Homo sapiens: one gene and its partners. The protein of the gene in region 1 interacts with the protein of each later gene in a pairwise test. Each region holds a gene or a part of one and is shown in the gene's direction. Other genes may lie near its edges. The genes, in order: TEX11, TIPIN, PRPSAP2 and CCDC198.

What was found.
Region 2: the proteins of TEX11 (region 1) and TIPIN interact in binary tests that used the Homo sapiens proteins (3 or more experiments, as listed by UniProt).
Region 3: the proteins of TEX11 (region 1) and PRPSAP2 interact in binary tests that used the Homo sapiens proteins (3 or more experiments, as listed by UniProt).
Region 4: the proteins of TEX11 (region 1) and CCDC198 interact in binary tests that used the Homo sapiens proteins (3 or more experiments, as listed by UniProt).

The regions. Positions count from the first base shown.
Region 1 is NC_000023.11:70,548,699-70,555,746, reverse strand, and holds part of TEX11 (testis-expressed protein 11), read left to right. Parts: intron 1-946; coding exon 947-1,096; intron 1,097-2,332; coding exon 2,333-2,441; intron 2,442-3,500; coding exon 3,501-3,621; intron 3,622-7,048. UniProt on the Homo sapiens protein: Regulator of crossing-over during meiosis. Involved in initiation and/or maintenance of chromosome synapsis and formation of crossovers.
Region 2 is NC_000015.10:66,335,691-66,339,685, reverse strand, and holds the end of TIPIN (TIMELESS-interacting protein), read left to right. Parts: intron 1-2,504; coding exon 2,505-2,728; 3' UTR 2,729-3,495; downstream 3,496-3,995.
Region 3 is NC_000017.11:18,875,099-18,882,146, forward strand, and holds part of PRPSAP2 (phosphoribosyl pyrophosphate synthase-associated protein 2), read left to right. Parts: intron 1-2,599; coding exon 2,600-2,772; intron 2,773-7,048. UniProt on the Homo sapiens protein: Seems to play a negative regulatory role in 5-phosphoribose 1-diphosphate synthesis.
Region 4 is NC_000014.9:57,490,840-57,498,304, reverse strand, and holds the start of CCDC198 (factor associated with metabolism and energy), read left to right. Parts: upstream 1-4,447; 5' UTR 4,448-4,589; coding exon 4,590-4,812; intron 4,813-6,265; exon of another isoform or gene 6,266-7,233; coding exon 7,234-7,316; exon of another isoform or gene 7,317-7,321; coding exon of another isoform or gene 7,322-7,363; intron 7,364-7,465. UniProt on the Homo sapiens protein: May be involved in tuning the metabolism, energy expenditure, and excretion processes.

The DNA.
Region 1 (7,048 bases):
GATGTAATACCAACTCTATACAAACTCATCCTGAAAGGAGGGCCCAATTCCCAGTTCATCTTATGAGACTATTATCCTGATACCAGTAGTAGACAAAGACAATATAAGAAACTGCAGACCAAGATTCCTCATGAAAATAGATGCAAAACATAAACGCAGAAAAGCAAAGATAGTTGCTACCTTGGTTGGATGGTATTGACTGGAAAGGAGCACAAAGGAACCTTCTGTATTGTTGGAAGTGTTTGTTATCACAATCTAGGTAGTTATTACACGGGTTTAAACACATGTAAAAACTCATCAAGCTGTTTAAGGTTAGAGCACTTCTTTCAGTTTGTTGTATATATGTCATACCTCAAAACATTTTTCAATGTTCAATCTACCAAGAAGGATGAATGAAAAGTGTCTCACATAGTTTAGTGTATGACACCTGACATGAAATTCTTTCTATGCTGATGCCCAAGAAATTCTGTCGACTAATGAAACAGTTTGGAAACTCTCCTCTATTCTGCTTAAAATAAAGTCACTGTTGGTTTATACAGCACTGTATCTTCTGGTTAACTCGGCCATTAGAGTGAGCACCAGCCCAGTTGAAAGTTCACAAGAAGCAAGTAAACACTGGATTTGATTTAGAATCAATAATAGCAGCAGGGTTTTCTCAGGCTGTTTAGAAGCATCGTGGCAATTGTTTGAGAAAATATAGGTAGTTCTAGTGAATGCGCTACAGAATGTTGGAAGTAGCGGTTAGCTTAGAGATTTTAAAATGTTAGAATCAAATAAAAAACAAAAATAAAATTTAGAATCTGTCTACAGCAGTGAAGATGACCTTCAAATTGTAAGTAAAATTAATATTTCTTAGAAGGAAAACCTCTCCAGTTAGTGAAATTACAACCAAAGAGAATAATATAATATAATCACAAAGAATGTTGCATTTTTGCCTCTTTCTTAGGGACCTTCTCAAATGATTCATGTGAGAAATTGCTTCTGCTGTACGAGTTTGAAGTTAGAGCCAAATTGAATGATCCATTACTGGAAAGCTTCCTGGAATCAGTGTGGGAGTTGCCTCATTTAGAAACTAAAACTTTTGAAACAATTGCAAGTAAGAGCTATATTTATGCTTTTGTAAGGCTGGTGCCCATTTAGATCGTATGACTTTTTTTCTTCTCTTTACTCTTCTTTCTTACCTCCAGGTAGGAAATAATTTTTTCTCATAGCACTTTGTTTCTCCTTCTCTAATGCCATTCTTAGACTATTTTGTATTATGATCATTTGTGCATTTATCTTCTTCACTCTATGAGATTATAATCTCTTTAGGGTCATAAACAATAATTACTTAATTTGTACTTACAAACCCTAGCGAAGTTCATTGCTCCTAATAGGTGCTCAAATTTTTTCTGTGTGGAATTTAATTATGTAACTACACAACAGGGGGAGCTCAAACTTTAGAAAGTTTTTCTGGGCTAGCTAGAAATAACTGAGTGCTTCAACAATCAAAAGTGATGCAATCTTAGCTGTTTGTTGAAATGTACAGAGAAATACTGGTAATATTTTTTAACACAATTGCCACTCTCAAATTTCAGGCCAAACTTTACGTGGGTTTGGGGGCATAGAGCCTTTTTGGGAGTACACTGCAGGAAACAGCCTAATTATCTTCCCTTTTTATCTCTCACCCTCTTCAGGAGCATGTGTGTGGTTAATAAAAATATTAGGTAGCTCCAAGTGCACAAGAGTCACATTTGCCTTTCCTTGGTCTTGCCAAGACAGAATTCCTAGAGCCATGGAGCAGATGATATATACTTTATGGACATGTGACAGCAACCACTGCTCCTTGTATAATGGAACTCCAATTCTAAAAATCTGTTAAATGCATCTGGAAGTCTTAGGGTTAGTTACCTCTGATACTCCCTTGTCAAGTGTTTCCTATTTTTAGTATCAGATAAAAATAGGACATTTTAGTACAAACCTGTTTCAATTAGTGCCCTTTTACTGATCTGCTTTCTGTTTCCTTCTTAGTGTGCCCTTCCTTGACTGTCATTCATAAGATTATTGCTTCACCTGTATGACTGTGTGCAAGGTCATACAAACAGTAGGTTTTCTGTTGATGTTTGCTGAAAAAAGGATGTTACCTGGTAATCCCACCATGCTACTCTGCCCAGAAAGTAGAAGCTATTTCCAAAAGCGACTGTAGATTTATCATTTATAAAATTCATTGTTGTTTATTTTTGTTCATCTGTTTCAGCCCAGTTTCATTAGAGAAAGCAAGTGGTAGCCTGGGATGAAAACTGTGATGGGTGACATTATCATGTTCACAACCTTTTTCCTTTTCTTACTCTAGTAATAGCAATGGAAAAGCCTGCACACTATCCTTTGATTGCTCTCAAGGCCTTGAAAAAGGCTTTATTGCTCTACAAAAAGGAAGAACCAATTGATATATCACAATACAGGTTAGTAAATACAATCCAGCCTTTTTGCTAGCCAAAAGAACTATAGTCAATGCCTCAAAAGTAACCAATCGTTCTTAATTGACTCAACTTTAAAGATGATATGGGGATGATCTGGGGGCATTCTTGTGAACAGCTCCATACTGAGAGTTGTATTACAGACCAATAATTATTTAGCAAAGTCAAGGAGCTTGGTTTTCCCAAAGGAGAAAAAAAAGGGGAAAAGTTGCTTCTTTGTGTGAATCTGTGTATATAATAAAACTGCTAAGTACCTTTCTTTCTTTGTTTCATCACTAAATAATATTCCAAATGTACAGAAAAGCACAGGGGTTAATATAACAAACACCAACGTATCCACCACCCAGATTTATTTGTTTTATTTTTAGAGATGGGGTCTCGTGATGTTGCCCAGGCTGGATTCAAACTCCTGGGCTCAAATGATTCTCCACCTCAGCTTCATGAGTAGCTGGGATTACAGGCACGCAGCACCCAGATTTAACAAATGTTAACATCTTGCTATGTTTGCCTCATTATTTTTCTAAGCACTTTAAGCACCGATAAGTGCTGTATAAAATATTATCTATTGGAGACTTTTTTGTTTTCTGTGTCCAGACATGGGGAAAAATAGATGTTGTGTGACTTTTTTTGTCTGGAAAACATCATTACAGTCTTCCTGTGTTAAGGCACGAAAGACAGTTCTTGTGGAATCATTCCACTTTAAACCCCAGTTCCCTTGCCCATTTGAGGAAGTACCGAGATGCTTTAAAATGCCTGTAAATTGAACCAGCTCATAAAATATAATAGACAGCCACAACTCCTTCGTGCAGGAAACTAAAAAAAGAATGAAAGACAACCATAGGCATGAAAAAAGAAAGGATTGGTCAACCTGTTTTACAGCTTCAAAAATCTGTCTTCTGAGGTTGGAGGCCAGATAAAACCGAGGGAAGAACAGAAGTGTTTTGAAGCTGTTAGTCTGGGATGAGATCCAGGTTTTACTTATCTTAGCCATGAAGCCAATGATTTCTTTCCTTATGGGATGAGTTTTCTCTTTTTGATTTTCAGCAAATGTATGCACAACTTGGTTAACCTCTCAGTGCCAGATGGGGCGTCGAATGTAGAGCTCTGTCCCCTGGAAGAAGTTTGGGGCTATTTTGAAGATGCTCTGAGCCACATTAGCCGCACTGTAAGTCAAATAGTGATATTAAACTTTCAGTTAATTTTAAAGAACTGAACTGTCTTGTGTACTATAAATTATATACAATAATGCTTTCTGATATGAGTTTTAGGATAAATTCATATTACAATTTTGTAGTTACACACTACAGAATTTTCCTGGGTTTCTGAAATATAAATAGTTGAAAGTAGACATTTTCTAACACAAGTGTATTATGGATTAGGTCCAAGTAGCAGTACCACCAGGCATTTTGAATTATTTTATATTTTCAAATCATGGTGGGATGATTACTTTCTCTGTGATGATATGAACCTTTTGAAAAAAGTTATTGCTATTCCCATCCTTTCTCAGAAGCATCCTTTCTCAGAAGAGTAGAAGGAACATTGAAGACCTGTATTCTAGTCCCTCCTCTGCTGATTTCTTTTTCTTTTCTGTGCAGGTTTATTCAGTTGTTTTAAAATTAGGTTTCTTGAGGTATAATTCACATATCATAAAATTCACCCATGGCTTGTGCACAATTCAGTAAATTTATAGAGTTGTGCAACTATCACTACAATCCAGTGTTTTTTAGTTTTAAAAATGTTTTATTTTTAATTTTTGTGGGTACATAGCGGTGTACATGTACCCATACTTATGGGGTACATGAGATTTTTTGGTACAGGCATATAATGCATAATAATCATATCAGGATAAATGGGGTATCCATCACCTCAAGCATTTATCCTTTGTGTTACAAGCAATTCAATTATACTTTTAGTTTTTTAAAATGTACAATTAAATTATTGTTGATTATAATCACCCTGTTGTGCTATTAAGTACAGATCTTATTCATTCTATTTTTTGTACCTATTAACCATTTCCACATTTCCCCCACCCCTCCTCTGGTAACCATCACTCTACTCTTTCTCTCCCCAGCAGTTCAATTATTTTAATTTTTAGCTTTCACAAATAAGTGAGAACATGTGAAGTTTGTTTTTTGTGTGTGTGCTGGGCTTATTTCACTCAACATACTGACCTCCAGTTCCATCCATGTTGTTGCAAGTGACTGGATCTTATTTTTTTTATGGCTGAATAGTACTCCATTGTGTATAGGTACCACATTTTCTTTATCCATTCATCTGTTGATGGACACTTAGGTTGCTTGCAAATCTTAGCTATTGTAAACAGTGCTGCAACAAACATAGGAGTGCAGATACCTCTTTGATATACTGATTTCCTTTCTTTTGGGTATATATCCAGTAGTGGGATTGCTGGATCATACGGTAACTCAATTTTTCGTATTTTGAGGAACCTCCGAACTGTTCTCCATAGTGGTTGTACTAATTTACTTTCCCACCAACAGTGTGCAAGGGTTCCCTTTTCTCCACATCCTCACCAGCACTTCCTATTATTGCCTGTCATTTGGATATAAGCCATTTTAACTGGGGTGAGATGATATCTCACTGTAGTTTTGATTTGCAGTTCTCTGATGATCAGTGATAGTAAGTACCTTTTCATATGCCTGTTTGCCATTTGTTTGTCTTCTTTTGAGAAATGTCTATTCAGATATTTTCCTTATTTTAAAACTCGATTATTAGATTTTTTTTCCTATAGAGTTGTTTGAGCTCTGTATATATTCTGGTTATTAATCCCTTATCAGAGGGGTAGTATGTAAATATTTTCTCTCATTCTGCAGGTTGTCTCTTCACTTTGTTGATTGTTTCCTTTGCTGTGCAGAAGCTTTTTAGCTTGATGTGATCCCATTTGTCCATTTTTGATTTGGTTGCCCATACTTGTAGGATATTGCTCAAGGAATCTTTGCCTACTCCAATATCCTGGAGAGCTTTCCCAATATTTTCTTGTAGTAGTTTCATAGTTTGAGGTGTTCGATTTAAGTCTTTAATCCATTTTGATTTGATCTTTGTATAAGGCAAGACATAGGGATCTCAACTTTCCTCCTTCTGCATATGGATATCCAGTTTTCCCAGCACCATTTATTGAAGAGACTCTTCTTTCCCCAAAGTATGTTCTTGGCACCTTTGTCAAAAATGAGTTCACTGTAGATGTATGGATTTATTTCTGGGTTTGCTATTCTGTTCCACTATGTTGAGCTGCCTGGGGCTGGAGGAGGGGTGATACAAGCACCCTTGTGGCCACTGCCACTGGGACTGTGCTGGTCAGACCTGAAGCCAGCACAGCACTGGGTCTCACCCAAGGCCCACTGTAACCACTACCTGGCTACCACCTATGTTTGCTCAATGCCTTAGGGCTCTACAGTCAGCAGGTGATGAAGCCAGCCAGGCTGTCCTTCCCTTCAGGGCAGCAACTTCCCCCTGGCCCCAGAGATGACATGCAGGAGCCAGGGCCTGGAGTCAGAAACCCTAGAAATCTACCTAGTGCTCTATTCTACTGCAGCTTAGCTGGTATCCAAACCACAAGACAAAGTCCTTCCCACTCTTTCCTCTTTCCACACGCAGAAGAGTCTCTCCCCGTGGCCACCACCATCAGGTGGTGTGGGGAGTTCTGCTGGGCTACTGCCAGTGTTCACTTAAGGCCCAAGGGCTCTGCAATCAGCTTGTGGTGAATGCTGCCAGGCCTGGGACTCATACTTCAGAGAAGTGGGCTCCTCTCTGGCCCAGGACAGGTACAGAAATGCCATCCAAGAGCCAAGGCCTGGAACCGGGGACCCTAGGAGCCCACTTGGTGCTCTAACCCACTGTGGCTGAGTTGATATCTAAGCTGCAATACAAAATCCTCTTTACTCTTCCCTCTGCTTTTCTCAAGCAGAAGGAGTCTCTCCTCATAGCCACCACAGCTGGGAATGTACTGGGTCACAACTGAAGCCAGCATGTCTCAGAGTCTCACCTAAGGCCCACAGTATGTACTACCTGGCTACTGCTGCTGATCACTGAGGGCCAAAGTGCTATTTAGTCAGCAGGTGATGAATCCTGCCGAGACTGGGTCCTTCCCTTCAAGGCAGTGGGTACCTTTTAGCCCGAGGTGTGTCTCAAAATGTTATCTGGGAACTAGGTCCTGGAATGGGACCTTCATGACTATGCCAAGTGCCCTGTCCTACTGTGGCTGAGCTGGTATCCAAGATGCAAGACAAAGTCCCCCTTAAGCTTCCCTCTCCTCTCCTCTAGTGGAAGGAAGGGGTCTGTTTTGGAGCTGCAAACTGCACTGCCTGGGGTTGAGGGAGGGGTCGTGCAATCACTCCCTTGGCTGCCCTGGCTGGTGTCTCACTAGGTCGCATGTCCCCCAGATGCACTGGCTCCAAGCCCAGCACAGCACAAAGATTTGCCCAGGAGTTGCAGTCCTTGTGGCCTAGACTGCCTCTCAAATTTATTTAGAACCCCAGAGCACTTTAGCTCTCAGTGGCAAGGCTTGTTGGAACTCAAGTTCCAACTACTGGGATGGACAATTGCTCTCTAGCTAGGGCTGGTCTAAATACTCCCTC
Region 2 (3,995 bases), on another chromosome or scaffold:
TCTTGACTCACTGCAGCCTTGAACTTCTAGTCTCAAGCAATCCTCCAGCATTGGGCTTCCAAAGTGCTGGGATTGCAGGTATGAGCCAGTGTACCTGGCCTAAATTTGCTGTTTTTAACACACATTGTGGGTTTGGAAACTATATAACCAAATTTGTTAAAACTATATTTAGAAAGAATTGCAAGTTGGTTTTGAATGAAGTAAGCAGGATTGCGTATATCTTTCTTAATTTCCCATTCAGTTTTTCCTTTCAAAATGGAAAAATAAGAATTATAGGCCCAGCACAGTGTCTCTTGCCTGTAATCCCAGCACTTTGGGAGGCTGAGGTGGGCAGATCACTTGAGCCTGGGAGTTCAAGACCAGCCTGGGCAACATAGTGAGTCCCCGTCTCTACAAAAAAAAAAAGAATTATAATAACTAGATACCATGTTGTAAACGAAGTTTCACCCAATATATTAACATTTTTAAGTGAAAATTATTTTGGCTACTTTTTTTTTCAGTTAAGATGAATTTACTTTTTCTTTTTGCTTTTTTTTTTTTTTTTTTTTTTTTTTGAGATGGAGTCTTGCTCTGTAGCTCAGGCTGGAGTGCAGTGGCGTGATCTTGGCTCACTGCAACCTCTGCCTCCCGGGTTCAAGCAGTTCCCCTGCTTCAGCCTCCTCAAGTAGCTAGGACTACAAGTGCGTGCCCCCATGCCTGGCTAATTTTTGTATTTTTAGTAGAGAAGGGATTTCACTGTGTTGGCCAGGGTGGTCTTGAACTCCTGACCTAGTGATCTGCCTGCCTCAGCCTCCCAAAGTCCTGGGATTACAGGTGTGAGCCACCATGCCCAGCTGAATTTACTTTTTCCTTTTTTTTTTTTTTTTTTTTTTGAGACGGAGTCTTGCTCTGTCACCCAGGCTGGAGTGCAATGGCGTGATCTCGGCTCACTGCAAGCCCCGCCTCCCGTGTCCATGCCATTCTCGTGCCTCAGCCTCCCGAGTAGCTGGGACTACAGGTGCCTGCCACCACGCCTGGCTAATTTTTTGTATTTTTAGTAGAGACAGGGTTTCACCGTATCAGCCAGGATGGTCTCGATCCCCTAACCTCGTGATCCACCCACCTCGGTCTCCTAAAGTGCTGGGATTACAGGTGTGAGCCACCGCACCTGGCCAATTTACTTTTTCTTTATAAATGGATGTTTTATTAGTACCATGTGAAACATTACATGAAGATAGCATTATTCTTGATGGCAGTGGCTTCTTTGCTGTCAATATCAAGTATACCTGGCAGTTGGTATTTAAAGCTCACCTCTGTTTATCATATACAACTTAAAATTTGTCCAAATGGAAATAAGTACTTTAAAGTTTCTTATGGATCACTCTGACATAAAACCTAAACGCACTTGGTTTTTATTAGACCTCTTTCTAGTAGTTTTCAGTTTTGTTTTTTTAGATGGGGCCTCACTGTATTGCCCAGGCTGGAGTGCAGTTGCTGATCTCGGCCCACTGCAACCTCCGCCTCCTAGGTTCAAGCGATTCTCCTGTCCCAGCCTCCCGAGTAGCTGGGATTACAGGCGTGCTCCACCATGTCCGGCTAATTTTTGTATTTTTTGTAGAGGCAGGGTTTCACCATATTGGCCAGACTGGTTTCAAACTCCTGACCTTGAGTGATCTGCCTGCCTCAGCCTCCCAAAGTGCTGAGATTACAGGCATGATCCACTGTGCCTGGCCAATAGTAGTTTGATTTTGAATAAGAACAGTTACATTTGACTATGATCCAAGAGTGTGAGTTGAATAACATTCAAAACCATTTTGCTTTTTTTTTGTTTTTTTTTGGTTATAGGATCTCACTTTGTCACCCAGGCTGGAGTGCAGTGGCACGATCATGGTTCGCCACCATAGCCAGCTAATTATTTTTTTTTTTATTTTATTTTTTTTGATGTTTTGTTGACATGGGGTCTCACTATGTGGCCCAGGCTGGTCCTGAACTCCTGAGCTCCAATGATCCTCCCACATTGTTGGGATCGGGCCTGGCCTCTCTTGCATTTAAAATGGATCTTAATTGTATAAAAATGGGCTTATTGGCTAGGCGTGGTAGCTCACGCCTGTAATCCCAGGACTTTGGGAGCCTGAGGCGGGTGGATCACCTGAGGTCAGGAGTTCGAGACCAGCCTGGCCAACATAGTGAAACCCTGTCTCTTCTAAAAATACCAAAATTAGCCGGGTGTAGTGGCGGGTACCTGTAATCCCAGCTACTCGGGAGGCTGAGGCAGGAGAATCACTTGAACCCGGTGGAGGTTGCAGTGAGCCCAGATCGTGCGATTGCACTCCAGCCAAAGTGATGGAGCGAGACTCCATCTCAAAAAAAAAAAAAAAGATATATTTAGAAGAAAGTGATCATAATTAACATTAAGTGATCTTAGACTTCATTTTACTAAACTGAGCTTTTGAAGAGGTTTGTACTCATGCGGTAAGATTGGATCAGGTACTTATAATGAATAATAATGGTATGATTTCTTTCAGATATGTTAATGAATACACCCAGGGCACACACGGTTGAAGAGGTTAATACTGATGAGGATCAAAAGGAGGAGTCAAATGGATTAAACGAAGACATTCTGGACAATCCATGTAATGATGCTATTGCCAATACTTTAAATGAAGAGGAAACACTGCTGGACCAGTCTTTTAAAAATGTGCAACAGCAACTTGATGCTACATCCAGAAATATTACTGAAGCTAGATAAGTTTCCATTAAGAGAAAATGTATCTGTTAAGTCATCGTCCTGCAAGCTTGGCGTTACTATGTATTTTTTCTTCTTGGAGTGAAAATCCTTAGATAGTAAAACTGTTATAGATTATTGTTTAAAATCTGATAATCTGGTATTTATTTATAATTATGCTTGTCACTTTAGTTAAATCTATTTGTTCTCTTTAGTGTTTGTTTTTATATAGGTATTTCTTCATAAAATGATTAGGAGGTAATAAGCAGTTTCTGCTGCTGGTCTGTCATTGAATGCCTTGTTTTCACTAAGTTGGGAGGTTTTGTTTCTGTTTTTTACTGCTCCTTGCAAAGCAGGGCTAATCCATGGACAGTGTGCCCAGAGTAGTCTAGTTGAAGTTTTTTGTTTTGTTTTGTTTTGTTTTTTTTGACACAGAGTCTCACTCTGTTGGCCAGGCTGGAGTGCAGTGGCACAGTCTTGGCTCACTGCAACCTCTGCCTCCTGGGCTCAAGCAATTCTCCTGCCTTAGCCTCCCGAGTAGCTGGGACTACAGGCGTGTGCCACCACGCTTGGCTAATTTTTGTACTTTTAGTAGAGATGAGGTTTCACCATGTTGGCCAGGCTGGTCTCAAACTCCTAACCTCAGGTAATCCGCCCCCCTCGGCCTCCCAAAGTGCTGGGATTACAGGTGTGAGCCACCGCGCCCAGCCTGGGTGAAGTTTTGAGATGTACATATATACTGAATATTAATGTCAATTTTTTAAAAGAAGTAAAAATTATCTTAAAAACTATCTACAGGCTTTATGGGAGGTTTTCATTGCTATATAGTTCTGCAGTTTACACTTTTGGTAAATACAAGATTTTTACATGTTTTCTAAGGAGTTACTTTAATAGTTAAAAGGTCACATGAAAGGCCGATACATTGCCTGGCCCTCATAGGTGCTAGGGTAGTTCAAAGAATGCTTTTTGGGAACTTACTGACTAGTTGGAGTGAAACTTGCAAAGTATCGTGGGGAACATAGCATCTCGGGAGGATTTACAGGAAAGACTTTGCTTTTGGTGGAGGAGATTCCAAGTATTGGGAAGCACATGTACAATAATGATACAGAAATAAGATTAAGGGGATAAGGCAGATTTTAGGAATGCTGATTTTGAGGTTAGATGTGTTAGGGCCAAATCGTGAGAACACCTGATTGGAGTTCTTCCTGCCAGGTAGAGGGGGTAGTTACAAATAAGAAAGGTTAGTGTTAGGAAAGGCTCTCCCACCCCACCCCCTCACCCCTACCCACAG
Region 3 (7,048 bases), on another chromosome or scaffold:
TTCATATTCCTCTAATCAGAATCACTCAGCACCCCTTTCATTTTCTCTCCGTGTCTCATTTTGCATTGTTCCATACCTGACATAAGCTTGTGTTAACTCGGGTTCTCAGTCTTGTCCATGTTGCAGAGTCTGGACGTCATGGTCTTCTTTGTGAAATACCATGAAATAACATTTAGTGTTGAGGGCCAGATGTGGTGGCTCATGCCTGTAATCCTAGCACTTTGGGAGGTCGAGGTGGGCATATCAGTTGAGGCCAGGAGTTTGAGACCAGCCAGGCCAACACGGTGAAACCCTGTCTTTACTAAAAATACAAAAAATTAGCTGGGCATGGTCATGAGCGCCTGTAGTCCCAGCTACTCAGGTGGCTGAGGCACGAGAATTGCTTGAACGCAGGAGGCAGAGGTTGTAGTGAGCTGAGATCACGCCACTGGATTCCAGCCTGGGTAAAAGAACAAGGCTCCATCTCGAAGTAAAAAAAAAAAAGGCTGGGCGAGGTGGCTTACACCTATAATCCCAGAGCTTTGGGAGGCCGAGGCGGGCAGATCAGGAGTTCAAGACCAGCCTGGCCAACATGGTGAAACCCTGTCTCTACTGAAAATACAAAAATTAGCTGGGCGTGGTGATATGCGCTTCTAATTCCAGCTACTTGGGAGGCTGAGGCATGAGAATCGCTTGAACCCAGGAGACAGAGGGTGCAGTGAGCCAAGATGGCGCCACTATACTCCAGGCTGGGTGATAGAGTGAGACTCTGTCTCAAAAAAAAAAAAAAAAAGCCTGTAATCCCACCACTTTGGGAGGCCCCAGGCGTGCAGATCACCTGAGGTCGGGAGTTCAAGACCAGCCTGACCAACATGGAGAAACGCTCTCTCTGCTAAAAATGCAAAATTAGCCGGGCATGGTGGCGCATGCCTGTGATCTCAGCTACTCGGGAGGCTGAGACAGGAGAATTGCTTGATCCTGGGAGGCGGAGGTTGCGGTGAGCCGAGATCATGCCATTGCACTCCAGCCTGGGCAACAAGAGCAGAACTCCGTCTCAAAAACAAACAAACAAAAAAATGATTTAGTGTTGTCAGATACATCTTATACTTCATTTTACTACAGATTAGTGCTAGCACTAAAAATAAAAGAGAAATTTAAAATTAAGAAAATTCCATCCATTAACTGAAGTTTTCCTGTATTTCAAACAAGACTGTCCTTATCTGAGTTCAGTAATGGAAAGCCTTGTTCCTCCACTCTTATCCTTCCCATAGAATACTTTTCTGAAAATCTTTTTTTTTCCTAAGTTAATTAACAGGGTGAAAGTCTCTTTTAACTCATCAGATGTCAGACTTGTTGTATAGTGACAGAGAACCTACTCACCTGAATGTTCTGTGTTTCCATTCACTCCTTCTTTCATTAACAAATACTTATTTTGAATGTCTACAATATGTGAATTACAGTTAGTTACACGTATGCAGGATGCCTCCATGATTAAAACAGAGAAAGTCCTTGTCCTTGTGGAGTTTATATTCCAGTGGAGGAAGACATAAAGTGAGCATAATAAAGACATAGATTATCTAGAAGGTGATGAATGGTTTGGAAAAAAATAAGACAGCATGGTGAGATGATAGTGGTGAGAGGGCAGAGAGAGGCAGACAGGGTAGGCCTCATTGTGGAGGTGACATTTGAACAGAGACTAGAGAAGGTGAGGGAGAGTCAGGTGACTAGGTGGGGAGAAAAGCATTGCAGGCAGTGGGAACGCCTAGAGCAAGCCCCTTAGCGGTGTGAGCTGCTGTGGGAGGACTGAACAGGGTCAGGTGTGGCCAGGCAGGAGGGGAGGGGCAGATCCTCAAGTTTGGACTGGAGTTGTAAATTTGAGAGTTGCCACCATCTATGAAGCTGTGAAATTAGATGAGAAGCCCAAAGGACGAGAGGGAACAGAAAGAGAGGACACATGAGCAAGTCCTGGGACGTGAGGCTGGGGAGAAGAGGAACCAGCAAAAGAAACCAAGGGTGGAAGGAGGACACCAGAGAGGGGCATTCTGGAAGCCAAGTGACCGTGGACATGGCCGCATGGAGGCCACTGATGACCTTTATGAAAACAAAGCTTCACTGGACTATTTGGGAGAGACTGAGAGTAGATAAATTGGAGATAGTGTAAGATGTACAGCAAAGGGGAGCAGAGGGGAGAGTGGTTATGAGTCGTGTTAATGGAAGTAACAGAATGTTTGTGGCCGATGGGTTATCAGTGGTGGAGGCAGGAGAGGAGAGAGAATTCCTTACATAGGTGTGCCATTTGGAGGGATTAATTTTAGGGCCACTGGCATGGAAATTTCCTCTGACTGATGACTGAGGGCAGGCCGACTCCTGGGGCACAGATGCACATAGTGGGAGCTTGTGGACACGCTCCTCTGAGAGTACTTAAGTAGGGTGGTCAGTTGAGAGCAGATGATGGGGGATCTTATGGAGGCCTGAGAAAAGAGGAATTTATTGGTTGGTTTTTTTCTGCCTTGCACCTTAGGTTGTATAAAGGCATGAGTAACACACTGCTGACACTTTTTGGAACAGGGAATACTGTGTTGTAGATCCCTTGATGAGATTTGCTGTGTCTTTGTTACAGGGACGTGAACACCACCATCATGGAGCTCCTGATCATGGTGTATGCATGTAAGACCTCTTGTGCCAAGAGCATCATTGGCGTGATACCCTACTTTCCTTACAGCAAGCAGTGCAAGATGAGAAAAAGAGGCTCCATTGTCTCTAAATTGCTGGCTTCCATGATGTGCAAAGCTGGTAAGAATGGCAGATGTTTCACAATTAATTGGGGGCCTGGGAGTTTTATTTATTTATTCTCTCTTTTTTAAGACAGGGTCTTGCCCTGTCACCTAGGCTGGAGTGTAGTGGCGTGATCATAGCTCACTGCAACTTGAACTCCTACAGTCAAGCAGTCCACCAGAGCCTCCCAAGTAGCTAGGACTATAGGCACATACCACCCTGCCTGCTAATTTTTAAATTTTTTGTAGATACTGGGTCTTACTATGTTGTTCAGGCTGGTTTTGAACTGCTGGCCTCAAGGGATGTTTCTGCTCCAGCCTCCCAGGGTGCTGAGATTATAGTCATGAACCACCATACCCTGCTGGAGTTTTATTTTTACCTTAGAAATATCAAAGTAATGGCTGGGCACAGCAGCTCACGCCTGCAATCCCAATGCTTTGGGAAGCTATGTGGGATGATCTTTGAACTCCTGGGCTCAAGTGATCCCCCTGAGTAGTTGGAACTATGGACATATACCACCGTGCCTGCCTAGATAGGCATATATTGGAAAAGATACATATTATTCTGTGTCAGGCATTTTCAGGTAACAACCTAAGTATTTTTCCTGTGTTTCTAAATAACCTTCATAGTTGTTATTGGGTATTTGTGTCAATATATTTGTGTTTGTGTGTGTGCGCGCTTGTATAAGTGTATATGATTTTATTTATTTATTTATTTATTTTGAGATGGAGTTTCGCTCCTGTTGCCCAGGCTGGAGTGCAATGGCATGATCTTCGCTCACCACAACCTCCACCTCCCCGGTTCAAGCGATTCTCCTGCCTCAGCCTCCCAAGTAGCTGGGATTACAGGCATGCGCCACCACGCCCGGCTAATTTTGTATTTTTAGTAGAGACAGGGTTTCTCCATGTTGGTCAGGCTGGTCTCAAACTCCCGACCCCGCCTCAGACTCCCAAAGTGCTGGGATTACAGGCGTAAGCCACTGCACCCGGCCTATGATTTTTTTATTTTAATTTTTATTCTGTTTATTTATTTTTTGAGACGGAGTCTTGCTCCGTTGCCCAGGCTGGAGTGCAGTGGTGGCACCTCGGCTCACTGCAACCACTGTCTCCTGGGTTCAAGCGATTTTTGTACCTTAGCTTCTCTAGTAGCTGGGACTACAGGTGCCTGCCACCACACTCAGCTAATTTTTGTATTTTTAGTAGAGATGGGGTTTTGCCATGTTGGCCAGGCTGGTCTCGAACTCCTGACCTCAAGTGATCCACCTGCTTTGGGCTCCTAAAATTCTGGGATTACAGACACAAGCCACCATAGCCAGCCTGAATGTATATGATTTTAGAAGGTATGTATCACGGAGCATTTGCACAGAGTGAATAGAATAAAAGTCCCCATATCACTGCATTTTAAGACAGGTACTTACTGTAGAATAAACCTTTTTTTTTGTTTGTTTTTTGAGACGGAGTCTTGCTCTGTTGCCCAGTCTGGAGTGCAATGACGTGATCTTGGCTCACTGCAACCTCCACCACCCGGGTTCAAGCAATTCTCCTGCCTCAGCCCCCAGAGTAGCTGGGATTGCAGGCACACACCAACATGCCCAACTAATTATTATTATTTTTATTTTTTATTTTTGAGTCTCACCTGTCATCCAGGCTGGAGTGCAGTAGCGTGATCTCGGCTCACCGCAACCTCCACTTCCTGGGTTTAAGCGATTCACCTGCCTCAGCCTCCTGAGTAGCTGGGATTACTGGCGCCCACCACCACGCCTGGCTAATTTTTGTATTTTTAGTAGAGACGAGGTTTCACCATGTTGGCCATGCTTGTCTCGAACTCTTGACCTCAGGTGATCCACCTTCCTCAGCCTCCCAAAGTGTTGGGATTACAGGCGTGAGCCACCACGCCCAGCCCAGAATAAACTTTCTAAGATAGTTTTTCAGTAAAGGCAAACGTAAAACAAACATTTAAAAACTAGGCAGGGTGTGGTGGCTCACGCCTGTAATCCCAGCACTTTGGGAGAACCAGGGGGCGATCACCTGAGGTTGGGAGTTCAGAGCAGCCTAACCAACATGGAAAAACCCCGTCTCTACTAACAATACAAAATTAGCCGGGTGTGGTGACACATGCCTGTAATCCCAGCTACTCGGGAGTCTGAGGCAGGAGAATTGCTTGAACCCGGGAGGTGGAGGTTGTGGTGAACCAAGATCATGCCGTTGCACTCCAGCCTGGGCAACAAGAGCAAAACTCCGTCTCAAAAAAATAAAAATAAAATTAAAAACTCAACCCGAAGCAACCTCAGGAGCCTACCCCATTGTAAACACTATGACAGGCAGCTGGTGAGGAGAGCAGGCTTGCCTGCTGAATCTTCAGGAAAGGGCCCATCTTCTCTACCAGCCTTGCTTGATGGGCCTCCAGACTTACTTTCCTGTTCTTTTGGGCAAGTAATGCTTTAAACAATTTTTCATACTGAATTTTCCTTACACTTTTCTGGTGATCGTTACAAAGGTGGTGAAGGTTTTCTGTTTTCTCCAATTTCCAGGCTGGTGCAGTTTGTCTTGATATCTTTTTTTTTCCCCATGGGTCTCAGTCCTCTTGCCCGGGCTGGGGTGCAGTGGTGTGATCACTGCTCACTACCAGGAGGTAGCCTTGACCTCCTGGGTTCAAGTGATCCTCCGACCTTAGCTTCCAGAGTAACTAGGGACTACAGGCATGCATCACCATACCTGACTAGTTTTTTGTATTTTTAGTAGAAATGGAGTCTCACCATGTGGCCCAGGCCATTTTCAAACACCTGGGCTCAAGTGATACTCCTGCCTCGGCCTCCCAAAGTGCTGGGTTTACAGGCATGAGCCACCACACCCGGCTGACTTGTTATCTTAAGACTGGACTTTGCCATGCCTGTTAAACTTCAAGAAGATTTGATCTGCTCTAATATAATTTTTAAAGACTCTTCTGTATTACTGTTATCTTTGCTATATTATGACTATTTTTTATTTATTTATTTTTTCGAGATGGAGTCTCGCTCTGTCGCCCAGGCTGGAGTGCAGTGGCATGATCTCAGCTCACTGCAACCTCCACCTCCTGGATTCAAGTGATTCTCCTGCCTCAGCCTCCCTAGAAGCTGAGATTACAGGCACATGCCACCACACTTGGCTAATTTTTGTATTTTTAGTAGAGACGGGGTTTCACCGTGTTGGCCAGGCTGGTCTTGAACTCCTGACCTCAGGTGATCCGCCTGCCTCAGCCTTCCAAAGTGCTGGGATTACAGCTGTGAGCCATCGCACCTGACCAAGACTTTAAATTGATGTGAAAATCAGGCATCTCACAGTACTAAAAAAAAAAAAATTTTTTTTGAAAAATACAAGTGCTGAGTTTTTTTGATGGTAGAACAATTTTGTCTTTTTTTTTTTGAGACCAAGTCTCCCCCTTTCACCCAGGTCGGAGTGAAGTGGTGCGATCTCGGCTCACTGCAACCTCCGCCCCCCCAGGTTCAAGCGAATTCTCCTGCCTCAGCCTCCCGAGTAGCTGGGATTATGGGCACGTGCCACCATGCCTGGCTAATTTTTGTGTTTTTAGTAGAGATGAGGTTTCGCCATGTTGGCCAGGCTGGTCTCCAACTCCTGACCTCAGGTGATCCACCCGCCTCGGCCTCCCAAAGTGCTGGGATTACAGGCGTGAGCCACCGTGTCCGGCCTTATTTTTTATTTTTTTGAGGCAAGATCTCACTCTGTCACCCAGACTGGAATGCAGTGGCTCAATCTCAGCTCACTTGCAGCCTTGACCTTCTGCACTGAAGCGATTCTCCCACCTTAGCCTCCTGAGTATCTGGGACTACAGATGTGCGCCACCATGCCTGGCTAATTTTTGTTTTGTAGAGGCGGGGTTTTGCCATGTTCCCCAGGCTGATCTCAAACTCCTGAGCTCAAGCAGTTTGTCAGCCTTGGCCTTCAAAGTGCTAGGATTACAGGCGTGAGCCACTGTGCCCGGCCATGAGAGCAATTTTTTTTTTTTTTTTGAGACGGAGTCTTGCTCTGTCACCCAGGCTGGAGTGCAGTGGCATGATCTTGGCTCACTGCAACCTCTGCCTCCCGGATTCAAGCTATTCTTCTGCCTCAGCCTCCCAAGTAGCTGGGACTACAGGCACACGCCACCACGCCCAGCTAATTTTTGTATTTTTAGTAAAGATGGGGTTTCATCATATTGGTCAGGCTGGCGTTGAACTCCTGACCTTGTGATCCACCCACCTCGCCCTCCCAAAGTGCTGGGATTACAGGCGTGAGCCACAGTGCCCGGCTGGAGAGCA
Region 4 (7,465 bases), on another chromosome or scaffold:
GTATGTGGAATCTAAAAAGTCAAATTCCCAGAAGTAGAGAGTAAAATGGTGGTTGCCAGAGGCTGGGGATGGGGAGGTGGAGTTGGGGGATTAGGCAATAGGGGGTGGGCAGGGAGAGATGAGACATCGGTCAATGGGTACAAAGTTACAGTTAGGAGGAATAGGTTCTGTGTTTTATTGCACAGCAAGGTGACTACAGTTAATAATGTACATTTCAAAATATCTAAAAGAGAAGATGTTAAGTGTTCTCACTAAGAAAACATGATAAATATTTGAGGTGATAGATATAATTACCCTGAGTTAATCATTTTCAAGGTATACATGTATCGGAACATCACACTGTACCCCATAAACATTCACAGGTATTTGTCTACTTAAAATAAAATAAAAATTTAAAAGATAAAAAGGATTATGATAACCAAAGGTTGATGTTCCTTTTAGAGATACAATATACAAATATTATTTTATCTAGGTTAAATCCATTGGCAATACATTTTAAGAAACCCACGCACTGGCTGTCTTCAGAGTAGTATAGTGTGCGAAGGCATGATTCTAGCATTTCATTCAATGATGTACTTGCAGATTGCATTCAAAGGGTAAAGAGACAAATCGTATACAACTGATCTCATGGAAGAGGTTATACAAGACGCTTCAGTTAACATTTTTTCCATTTGTTTTGCTTGAGCACTTCCAAACCCAGTAGGTCTGATTACACTGTCACCTTTACATCAATATATAAATAAATCGGGAGGAAAATAATCACTGGAAGGAAAATTAAGGTTCGGGTCATACATCAACTCTGCTTAGTTAGCATGCAAACCTATAATTCACACTGCTGCTGAAAAGCCTCCAGTGATTGCTTATCCATTACAGATCCATTGCAGAAAAAGGCTGTAACTTTATTAGAAGCCTAATTTAAGAACCTATAAACATTTAGAATTTAAGCCCCACTGACTGAATGAAGTCCAACTGTATGGAATATTTATACACATGTTGATTTAAATCCCTTCTGAAGCCTTTCCAAGAAAACCGTATGCTGAAGGATCAAAAGGCAATTTAACCAACCCGACTCCAGACTACCACCATCCAGTCCTAAGGAATATCACCTTAGCCTTTGTCACTTGCTTAATATAAAACATCCAAACGAAATTACCCACAGCTCATTAAAAAAAGAAACTCATTTATCCGATATTAGGTTGTTTAAACTTTAAGATTTACTATTCCTCAAGTGTTTGCATGGTTTTCTCTAGGTAGCTTCTCAGAACATAGTGCTACTGCAGTCATGAATTCCTGTTAGCTGGTAAGCTACTTGCAGAAAATAGATGTCTTTGTTCATCCCAGGCATTTTCCTTATCTCCAGGCAGTCATCTTACCAAGGTATGGGGAAAGAGATTGTAGATGACTCTGGGAAATCCATCAAAACTAAGGCAAGAGCTATCAAATCACAATCTGATGGAAAAAGGTAGGTAATGTTTCCACACAGGAAGGAAAGCTTCTCTCCTTATGCTGGCTCTAAATAGATATTACAGTGTAAATCAAGCTATAGGAGGTTGTAAGGAAACTTAGAGAGCACCTACTCTCTTAAGTATGATAGCAGACTCACACTTAAAGACCTGGATCTTGCCTCCCATCATTCAAGTGTAAAACTTTCTCTTATTAGAGAGCAGAAAAATCCACATATCTCATAATGAATGTGTATTGAGTTTCTATAGAACTTATATTCACTAAACAATATTCCTTAATAGTTTTGTCCCCAAGGCTAGTTAGGAGTGAACCCAGAACAAAAGCTAGGATTTTTAACTTCAAAATGAATGTATATTTTGAAATAGACATTATACTTTGCCTTCTCCTTATTGCTTGGTTCACTCTGTGTCTTGAAGGAAGGCATTTTCTACAGAAGGCAAGAAAGGTCCAAGCACCAGGAGCTTGTACACGGCTATTTCTTGGGAACTTCAAGGTCACATTGCCTGTGGAGATGCTCCAGGCTGAGGGCTTTGATTCTTCCTGGCAGAAATAGTACACTTGGCTGTGAGTTCCTGCTTCTCTCCATCTCCTCTGGGGCCTCGCCACTTTCTCTTAGTACATTTTTCTCTGGATGCTACCTTCAGCTTTAGAAAAGTTTAGCTAATCTTAAGAGTTTTATAAATTAATATTCTCATTCCATATTCATGAATTCTGACTGTTACAAATAACAGCATGTTTTATCATTTTTACACACAATAACGTATAGTCATAGTCATTCTTGAACTAGGGAGTGGTCATTATAAAGTATCACAAAGTGTTTGGGAAGTAGTCAAGGTTTTAGTTGGGTGAGAGCTTTTTAATGTTTTACAACTCTGGTAATAAGAAATTACATCTTATATCTAACTCTATCAGTGAAATTAAACTCTTTTTCTCTTTTAATAAAATTAAAATGTTTCACTATCAAATTTTAATAAAATCCTTTCAGTGTATGAATATTTTCTAATGATAATCCTTAGACATGGTGGTTTTCCCAGTTAAATTGGCCAGATGAATTTACGCTTCCCTCGTTGGTCTTTTCTATACCTAGGGGCAAACTCCTTTAGACAGGAATATGTCTATTTTAATTTCTGACCAACTGGCAATAAAGACTATCCTATGTACATGTAGATATGTAGCAATACTTCCTCAGAGGAGGAGGATACTGGCTAATGATTACTGTGAGCTTACTACATGCCAGGTATTAGTCTAAGAGCTATAAATGGAATCAGGTTCATTTCCCACAAAGTATTGTTATTAACCCCATTTCACAGATCAGGAAAGTCACAAAGCTTGATAGTCACTAGTAATGAAAAGAGAAAGAAGCACAGAAATGCATCTTTATTTCTTTAATTATTCCTTCAACAACTAACCAATTTCCTCAACAAAGGCTCATGTTCTCCACAAATATTGTCTGAAAATTAAATAATAATAAAACAAAACATAAGAGCTGAATCCCTCTTACTGGTCCAGATCCATGAAGTCCACAGTTTTCAGTACAATGTCTAGTTCATTTGTTAGTTCGCAATACATTCCCCTGCCCTTAGAAATACTTAAACTGATTGTACTAAAAAATAAATCTTACTAGACCTTACTCAAGTATTATTATCCTTGTAATTAAGCTAGTCTGTTTACCAGAGGCTGTTGTGTTTGCAGATACTGTTAATATATTAGTCTTTACTTATAAACCTCTCTGCTGCAGAGAAAATGATGTGGAAAATGCAAAGAGAGTAAGGAAAAAACTAAATTCAGGCATCTTTTTAGATAAACGTGATTGTCTACCAAGACTTTCCAAACATCACCTTAGTCCCTTAGGAAATGGATTCTGCAAAGATGAAAAATAAATTTTCTTTTAATTTCTTTATGGAGATGTGATGAAAACACAAGTAATCTGTGCTCATGAACAATTAGAGCTTGAAAGTTAGTCCCACTTCTAAGTATAAAGAATAAAATAAAAATCACCCATAATCCCACCATTCAAAAATCACTACTCAATATTTCGGCACATTTCCTTCCAGTCTTTTTTTCTACTTTAAAAATCATAATAGACCAGGCACTGTGGCTCATGCGTGTAATCCCAGCCCTTTGGGAGGCCAAGACAGGTGGATCTCTTGAGGTCAGGAGTTCGAGACCAGCCTGGCCAACATGGTGAAACCCCTTCTGTACTAAAAAATACAAAAATTAGACAGGTGTGGTGGTAGTAGGTGCCTGTAATCCCAGCTACTTGGGTGGCTGACTCAGGAGAATCACTTGAACTGGTGAGGCGGAGGTTGTGGTGAGCCAAGATCGCTGGGCTTGGGTGACTCCAGCTTGGGTGACAGAGTGAGACTCTGTCTCAAAAATAAATAAATTAATTTAATTTAGTTTAAAAACATAGTAAATAGGTTATCTTCAAAAACTCAAGGTTTACTTAGACCATTTATTCAAGAATTTTTTCCCCTTATCCCCAGGAAAAAAATTTCTATTATCCTCCTGTCCTGCAATGTATTCACCCCCTTCAAAGGCAACTCAAGTCATCGACAGAAAAATCAAATGACGCTTTAGCCGCTCCGCTGCTTTCTTTCCTATTTGGGGGATAAATTCTTTAATTAAATTAAAGATTAACAAAGCCTTGGCAATCAGCATGCATCCTCTTAATTGCAAAGATGGCTTAGCTATTCTCAGCAGTTAGTTTTTTTACAAAGGTACTTGCAATGAAAGGGTCAAGTTTAAGACTTCTCTAAACCTCTGCTCTACATCTCTCTCTGTTAATAACCTTCCTGGTGTTCGATATTTGTTTAATGATCAACAGTGGCTTCTATTCCTATCACTGAGTATTTCAGAAAGTAGCATAACCAAGTCAATGTTTAACTGGATTCTTTGGGTCTGAAACGGCAAAGTTGAAGGGAAGTCTCCATGGAAACCAGCCTCCCAGGAAGTGGCCAAAAGGGTTAGTGTGCAGTGAAACAGAGCTAGAAGGATGCCATGAAGGAAATGACTGCTTTGTAAAGCGAGGGTAAACTTCTGAAATGCTTTGATTAAAATAAGCTATATTAAAGACCCCAAAACCACTTCCCTCGCAGCTTTCCTCTGAATGTCTTTCACATGAAATGGGCCTGAGTCACTCTAAGACTCACCTTAGGGTGATCAAAGTAGCACCTTTGCAAAACAAAGAGGTAGAGACTCCCTCGGCTGGCCGTGTGGACTTTGCATTCAATCAGAATTTGGAAGAAAAGACTTCATATTCACTGGCAAGACTGCAGGACCAGAATAAAGCCTTGGAAGGGCAGCTGCCACCTTTACAAGAAAACTGGTATGGAAGATATTCTACAGGTAAACATAAAACCCAGCATGAGATGTGTGTATCTGGACCAAGGAGCATTATTAATAGGTTTATCTGACTGTCTCCATGATCTCAGAAAGTTTCTAAATTCCTGAAATGTAAAGGAATTTAGGCTATCTTTGAAAACTCAAATCTTTCAATGAGGATTGAACATCAGTTGAAAGTATTCTGGGTTCATTAGAATGGGAGTATAAACTGTACAAAGGACTTTTCACTATTCCATATGAGAAGGATAAATCATTTTGTTTCAGCTCAGTTTGTAATGCTTTCAATGTTTATACCTAGTTTTGCCAGACCATTAAAATTATATAGATACTAGTGATAAATGATAGCAATCGCGTTTCAGTTAGATTCTAAATTTAAATCATTCTCTCCAGTATAGTTTAATGCACCAGACTTTGTGGTTTTGAAAGCAACACTTTAAGAGTGAGTTAATTCTAACATGAATTTTGAAACCACCCTAAACAGTATTGATTTATTGCAGTACAGAGGAGTGGATGAGTCACCCTTTTCCCAACCCCACATTCTTCATGGTCATCTGCAGAACTAACAGAATTCTTTCCCATTATGATTGGAAGCTCTGAGCCTGAAGTGGCCATAAATCCTGGGATATTTTATAAGCCATGTAAAATGTTTTATGATGACCACAATGATAATTAAACAGACATTCTCACTTAGAAAAATATATGTTTATTATATACATATATATATGTATATTGTTTTCCCTTTTCTTCACCTTCTGGATCAATAACACAAATAAGTTTCCCTTATTGGATGCCTTGTTCAGAAAGCCTCACATTCTCTTTTGGTACCTAGCAAATCTTGCCTGGAATGATTTTTCATGGCTATTGTCTGCAGAATTGATAACGTTTGGTTGTTTCTATATGGCCTGTTTTTATGTTCTTTATGTTCTTCAAGTTCTTAAGCACATGGATGGGAATTTTCCCCTTAGGAATTTTTTTATGATAGATAGAGGGATAGGTGATAGACATGATTTAAAAAATGGAGCGTGAATGTGTACTAAGAGTATGCAATGCTCCTATTGAGGAATTCCCTTTTTATCCAAACCCCCATTGAGAGTTTTAAGATTTTGGTGACAGAGAGAGACTCTGTCTCAATTAAAAGAAAAAAAAGATTTAGGTAACTGAATAAATGGTGAGCTTATGTCTGAAGTGACAAAATCACATTTAAAAATAAATAACAAGATCATGAGAATCCTCATGATCTCCCATATTCTCACCCCAGCTCCATCAAATACCAAATCGAATGACCTTGGGCAAGTTACTTCATCAATTTTTTTCACTTGTAATCAGGGGTAAAAATAAATGCCTGACACAGCCTATGCCAGTTGAGGAAAATCTAATTAAATAATGGAGTAATGTCACTAAAATAAAAAAAATAAGGATTAGTAAGCCTTCTGAAAAAATAGCTGAAAATACTTACATTGTTAAATCCAGTATGTTTGTTGTTTCCATCCTGCTCAATATGCTGGCATCTTTTCAAAAGAAAATAAGGACATAGTTTCCATCCCACTAAAAGTTAGAGAGAACAAAGTCCTTGAAGTGGTTATTCACATGTCTTAAGGAGAGAGATGCATAATTACCCAGGGATTTTTCCATTTAAAATGCAAAGTGGGACTGTAAAATAGTCTATGAAACAATCTAGAAGTCAGAATGTGTCCAGATTGTTAAAAGGGAAGGACAAGAACTTCATTCATGCAGCGCTGGTCATGGTAGCACTCCCAAGAGCTCAGGATAATCAAGCTGGAAAATAAAATCCATAATGGATCTGTTGAGCCTCTCTGTTTCCTAATAGAGGCTTAACTCTGTATCCCCAGCTTGTTTCATCAGGAAAGAATATTGATATGCTGTATTACAGTGGCAACCTGTGGAAATTTTTTTCACTAAAGGGGCTATTGAATTGTGTTCACACGTACTCCATTTCTTTCTCATCTCTGTATAATCACCTATCTATCTATCATCTATTTCATCTAAGAAGATTGTTTTCATTTTTTAAAGTTATATATTTTTCTGATGTCTTATATTTCAGGGAGGAGATTTTATGGAATTAAAATAAGTCAATAAATTTCTATTTTCCAGGCCAAATTCTGTTTGAAAAATATTTGCAGTCAACATATTGGTAATTTTGTAACTCTCCCCCTAAGTATGAACCTGAGTAGGAAGTTAGGAGAGCAGATATTAAATCCTGGGTCCAGACTAAAATAGTGTCATGTGCACTAATGTAGGTTCCCTGCTTTCTGTGTTTCATCTCCACATTCAACCCACAGGTTAGACATATATAACTGAAAAGGTACAAAATTGTGTTGACAAAGTCTAGTAACTAATGATTGCCTGATTTAATAGTAAATTATATTTAATGTTTTATTCCTGTTTCTTCCCCAATCCTTCAAGCATCCAGAGACATGTATTTTGACATCCCACTGGAACACAGAGAAACAAGTATTATTAAAAGGCATCCACCCCAAAGACTTCAAGTAAGATGAATTTAAAAGGCTTCATAAGGAATTTCTTGGATAAAATGGTAACATCCCTTTTTAAACTATAATCATCAAAGAGGGATATTGATAAGGACCAAGCTATTAATGAGAATGTTCTTAAAGAAAAATGTCATCAATCGCAAATA